Regions from separate parts of the Homo sapiens genome. Here region 2 is linked to region 1. The links come from fine-mapping of genetic effects on gene expression. A gene starts in region 1. The other region holds a variant in brackets. All regions are shown on one strand. Distances are between the middles of the regions.

What was found.
Region 2: its variant is fine-mapped to the expression of BTBD3 in whole blood (INTERVAL, PIP 0.92).

What each region holds. Positions count from the first base shown.
Region 1 is chr20:11,916,367-11,919,293 of GRCh38, reverse strand. It overlaps BTBD3 (BTB domain containing 3), which reads right to left and starts at 1,401. Exons shown (of 4, transcript NM_014962.4): 1 at 693-1,401; 2 at 118-208. The coding sequence starts at 1,018. BTBD3-AS1 (BTBD3 antisense RNA 1) reads left to right here and starts at 693. Exons shown (of 3, transcript NR_186407.1): 1 at 693-980.
Region 2 is chr20:11,774,509-11,777,435 of GRCh38, reverse strand. No RefSeq gene overlaps it. Among named protein-coding and RNA genes, the nearest start is that of LINC00687, 95 kb to the left of the region's middle. The variant G/A (reference allele first, on the strand shown) is at 1,331.

The DNA.
Region 1 (2,927 bases):
CGAGTGAAACATGCACTGCCTGACATCGGCAAGCTGCCCACACCAAGTTACAGGCTTATGGAAAGGGTCCCTCTTTGTAAACGTCAGGACTAAACCGGTCATGCAGCTGTTGCTTACTTTGTGTCCTGGCAACCGTTGAGTCCCACCTGGTGGCCCAACCACAAAATGTACATCTGCCATCAAATCATTATTGAACATCATCGCATTTCTATAAACAGAGGCAACTCATTAATTCACAGCAGCCTGCATTTTTAACATCCCCTTCCCCAACATACAAAACCCACAAAAGACTTGCAAGCTAAGCAACAGTCCAGTAACTTCAAGGCAAAACAACAAATAAAGGTTCTAACTAAACTGTTCATAATCATTGCAAACATAAGGGAAGTAACTAAAGTTTAAAATAAAAGTTATACAAACTTTTAATAAAGCTAAGGACAAATAAAAGGTTCCCATTTTCTATGGCCCATAGACAACCCTGTCACTTGAATGTTACAGCTTGCAAAAACATTTTTATCTAAGAGGAAAACAGCTGTACTGTTTTGGAAAAGATACAAGGCAATTTTCCATTACCAATAAAAAGCTTCTGGGAAAAGAGGAAACAGATTTGTGTTCAAATACATTACAGGTTTTGCAAAAGCAGAAACTTCAACACAGGAAAACTTTTAAAGTAAATAGACTAGCGCGGCACTTACCTCTCTCTAATGGTGGGATAAAGACCCTGCCAGTTTGGGGCCGGGATAAGGTTGTTGTTACTGAGATTCTGCTGGTGGTACTGCTGGACGCTGGTGCTGCTGGAGTTGGCTGGCTTTTTACGGGGGAATATATCAGCAGCCATCTTCTTCTTTTTAGTCTTCAAGGTAATTATTTCATAACAAACTGGTGGCAACTTGCTGCTGTTGCTACTGCTGCTGCTGGTATTTGCTTTCTTTGAGCTTTTCTTGGACCTGTTCTTTACCGTCTCTGGAAGCATCAAGAAGAAGGTGAGACATTTCATGTTCTTTTCCTTGTCATCTACCATGAGTACAGTGTGTCTCTCTTTAGAGTTAGATATCCCAAATTGGTTTGAACATCAAGGAAAAGAGATTAGCCCGGGCTAAGAGGTTAACTGAAACCAACAAAGCTGATATTTTGCTGCTTTTCTCAGCCAGGCAAGGTGACCTTTTCACTATGTTGAATAGAAACTGGCTTTAAGTTTTATCCAGTACTGGGTCTGTTAAATATATCCCCATCATGATTCCTGTTTCTCTTATTTGCTCATAAAAATAACTGTTTCCTAGATCACCTGAAAATGCTACACTGCAAAGATGACAGGCACAGAGCTGTAGCACTTCTTTTCTGAATTAGGTCAGCAAGATGGGCTGGAGCTGCGTGAGTCTGTTCAGCCGGCTGAAGTTGTGTGGTGAATGGATCGGAGGAGAGTAGGTATTACAGCCCTGCAGATGGAGTCAGACAGCCAGTGCTCCGAGCCAATAGCTGAAGTCACCAATCATGATTGGACCAAGCAAAACAGTGACACCTATTGTAACATGCATAGTTCTGATATTAAAGGAACAGCAGTTGCATTTTCTTGTCTACTGTATATTTAAACAAGATAATAACATATGAAATATATTTGACAACAGGAAGGGAGGAGTTTATGCCCACAGATTTCTCTTCAGTAGACATACATTATGTCCCCAGTTAAGCAGGATCAATTAACAAAGGGTAGGGACAGATATCTATATTTCTACTAAAATCTTTTTCCCAGCAGCATTTAGTTTCAAATACTTAAAACAAAATCCTCCAGTCTATAAACTGAAAAGGGCTATTAATAGCAAAACACATTTATTACACTTTAAAGGCAAAGGACGTTATTTTTCTTTTTCTTAGCCTCTTTTGAGTGCAAGTCATAGTCTAGTGCTAAAGAAGAGAACTGAGGCCATGTGTTCAGTTTACCTCCCAATGTTTTCTAGCTTCTATAATGGTCTTTGACAGGTGTCTCAGGTCACAAAATACTGTTAATTAGATTAAGATTATACCCGTACACCTAAGTACACTAAAGCATAAGATAAACTCTAGAAGTAAAAATAAGATTCAAATAAAAACAAATCTGATGATCAATGTTCAAAGGCTGTAATTCACTAAAAATATTTCAGATGGGGCCATGTTCAGGATCTCAAAATTCAACTTAACTGTTAAGGCTACATTTAGTCTTGTCTTAATTTTAAAGAATATAATCCACAACTTCTAAGACAGAACAAATAACAAGGCTATTCAAAATGATAAATGTTCGGATTCCACCTAGTTAAAATGCAAACAGGTTCTCTCTGCTTTGAATTAGAAGAATATAAGCTACCATTTGATTTTTGTAGGTGTGAATCCTCCAACCATTTCTAGCGTTGGTGAGTAAAAAAAACAAAAACACCGGCAATAGGTTCTGCATATGCTTATTTATTGTAAAGAGGGACTAATTAAAATATTTAATCTCACCCCTATCTATTTGGATCACGCTCATTTGTTCAAAGCACAGCAGCCATTTGCTACCCCTCAGGCAAATGCACCCTTCATGACCACAGCCCTCCTTGTTTTAACATTTGTCTGAATAATGACTACCTGACACAGTGAGGGCTCAGCAAATAAGAGTTACGATTGTTATTGTTATAATTAATAATCTGCTAAAGGCGGTTACCAGAAATCAGTCTTTAAATCCCTAGAACACTAAATTGAACCAAGAAATATCCTCTTTATTGTTGTTATTATTATTCTTAAAACCATTTGCAAAGCCTCTGTAAGAGAACCAGGGCCTGTAGCACAGTTACCTGTCTCCATTTTAGATGGATCCTGAAGCACTGCTTATTTATTATGATTATCATGTTCTCAACAGCAGAACACACACATACAGATACCTCCAAATCATCTTCATACACACTTTAACACACAATGTTAGA
Region 2 (2,927 bases), 140 kb after region 1:
CAAATGTACATCAGAGTTTTCAAAATTAAGATAAAATTTCAATACCAGAAACGTTCCCCATTTAAAGCACAGTTCAGTGATTTTTAATATATTCACAAGCTTGTGCAACCATTACCACTACCTAATTCCAGAACGTTTTTGTTAACACTAAAAAGAAATCCAGTACACTTTAGCTATCACCTGCCCATCCCCATCCCCATCTCCTCAGCCATCACTAATCTACTTTCTTTCTTTGAGGGTTTGCATATTCTGGATGTTTTGTATAAATAGGATCACATAATATGTGGCATTTTGTATCTGGCTTCTTTCACTTAGCATAATGCTTTCAAGATTCATCCATATTGCAGCATATATCAGTACTTTCTTCTTTTTTATGGCTGAATAATGTTCCATTGTATGAGTGAATACACCACATTGCATTTTTCTATTCACTTACAGACATTGGGTTGTTTTCACTTTTATGGCTATTACAAATAAGGCTGCTATGAACATTTTTACACAAATATGTTTGTGAATATATCTTTTCAATTTCTTGGGCAAATGCCTGGGAATGGAATTGTTGAGTCATATGGTAACTCACGTTTAAAATTTTGAGGAGCTATCAAGCTGCTTTCCAAAGTGGCTGAACCATTTTAGATTCCTCGTAGCAGTGCACAAGGGCTCTGCTTTCTCTATACCCTCACCAACACTTGTTTTTGTTTATCTTTTGTTTACAGTCATCCTACTGGGTGTGCTGTGGTATCTCATCATGGTTTTTGATTTGCATTTCCCTAATGCCTAAATGATGTTGAGAAACTTTCCACGCACTCATTGGCTATTTGTATATTTTCTTTGGAGAATACACATCAGACTTTTTAAAAAAAATTTAGAGATTTTACTCATTAGACTAATTTTAGTTTTACAGAAATATTGGGTAGATAATACAGAGAGTTCTCACCCAAACAATTAACCTTATTATTAATACCTTAAATAGTATAGTGCATTTGTTAAAATTAATGAACCAATATTGATACATTTTTATTCCCTGAAATGCCTATACTTTATTCAAGCTTTCCTTAGTTTTGGCTTAATGTCCTTTTTCTGTTTCAAGATCCCACCCAGGATTCTACATTACATTCAGTTGTTTTATCTCCTCGGGCTCCTCTTGGCTGTGACAGTTTCTCAGGCTTCCTTATTTTTGATGACCTTGACAGTTTGAGGAATATTGGTCAGCTATGTTGTAAGATGCCTTTCATTGAGGTTTGTCTAATGTTTTTCTGAGGATTAGACAGAGGTTATGGGTTTTGGGGAATAAAAGGTCACAGAGAAAGATAATTTCAGCATAACAATG[G/A]TACATATAATACTATCAACATGATTTATGACTGCTGATATTGACCTTGATCACCAGGCTGAAGTGGTATTCATCAGCTTTTTCAGCAAGATTATTCTTTCATAAAAAACAATATTGTTAAAGACTCATGTCAATTTATTTTATACTTTGAGGTATATAGTATTCTGTTCTCACATTGCTACAGAGAAATACCTGAGACTAGGTAACTTATAAAGAAAAGAGATTTAATTGGCTCACGGTTCTGCAGGCTGTGAAGGAAGCATGATGCTGGCATCTGATTGGCTTCTAAAGAGGCCTCAGAAAACTTACCATCATGGCGGAAGGTGAAGGGGGAGCAGACACATTACATGGCCAAGGCAGGAGGAAGGGGGAGTGAGTACTACACACTTCTAAAAGACCAGATCTTGTAAGAACCCACTACCGAAAGGACAGTACCAAGAGGATGGTACTAAACCATTCATGAGAAACCTGCCTCCTTGATCCAATCACCTCCCACCAGGTCCCAACTCCAATATTAATGATTGCATTTGGACATGAAATTTGAACAGGGGCAACACCCAAACTGTATCAGGGTATAATCCAATCCTGTTTTGTTACCAAAATTATTTCGGCGGTGCCATCGGACAAACTCCTATCAGTGTGAAGTTGTTTCTTTTGTTGTTGTGGGGCGTTTTTGTTTTTGTACTTCTTTACTTTCTAGCACTACAAAATAAGATAGGTGCAGGGGCGGGGGGGCGGGGGTGCACTAGCTATGAATGTTACTACTGTAGTGTCCTTTCCTATAGGCCCTCTCAGCTCACAGAGCAATAAAGTATATACACATATACCAAACATCGAATATACACATATCTGTAAATATTTCTATATGTAACCATCTGTATCTAAATTTCAGGTGATAGTAAATATACACAGGAGTTCATATTGATGTCTCCAACTCTAGTCTATTACCATAGGGATCATGTTAGCCTTCTCCCTTTGCTTATCTGTGAGCACCTACCTCAGCCATTCACTGACTTTAGTTATTCAATTTTAGGGTAAATTATAGCAGTGGCAGAACTGTTAACCTGTGTCTCCTTAGGGAACAAGTTTACCAACTAGAGTGCAGTTCTCTTGTAGAGTCACTCTTGCCTTTATCCTTAAAGGCTCTATACATTTTCAAAGTTACTTAGGTCAGCACCATTTTCCCCACCCCTAATGTTTGAATTTGTTTCATACATTTGTAATAAAGTTATATTGTGTTGTCACAATCTGTACTCTTTTGCTGCAATTCCAGGATCTTCTAAATAATCATTTAAAATTTGCACATATCAAATATCAGTCTTTGTGCTATTAATTTCCATGGGTATGACAAATGCATAATATCATGAATCCACTATTATAGTATCATACAGAATAGTTTCAACTGCTCTAAAAAATCTTGCTCTTTTCATCTTATTTATCCCTCTCCCTCTCTCAACGCTGGCAGCCACTGATTTTTTTTTTTTTTTTTTTTTGCTTTCTGTATTAGTTTGCTGGGGCTTCTATAATAAAGTCCTTAGACTGGTACTTTCTTCTAACAACATAAATTAACTTTCTCACAGTTCTGGAGGCTAGAAGT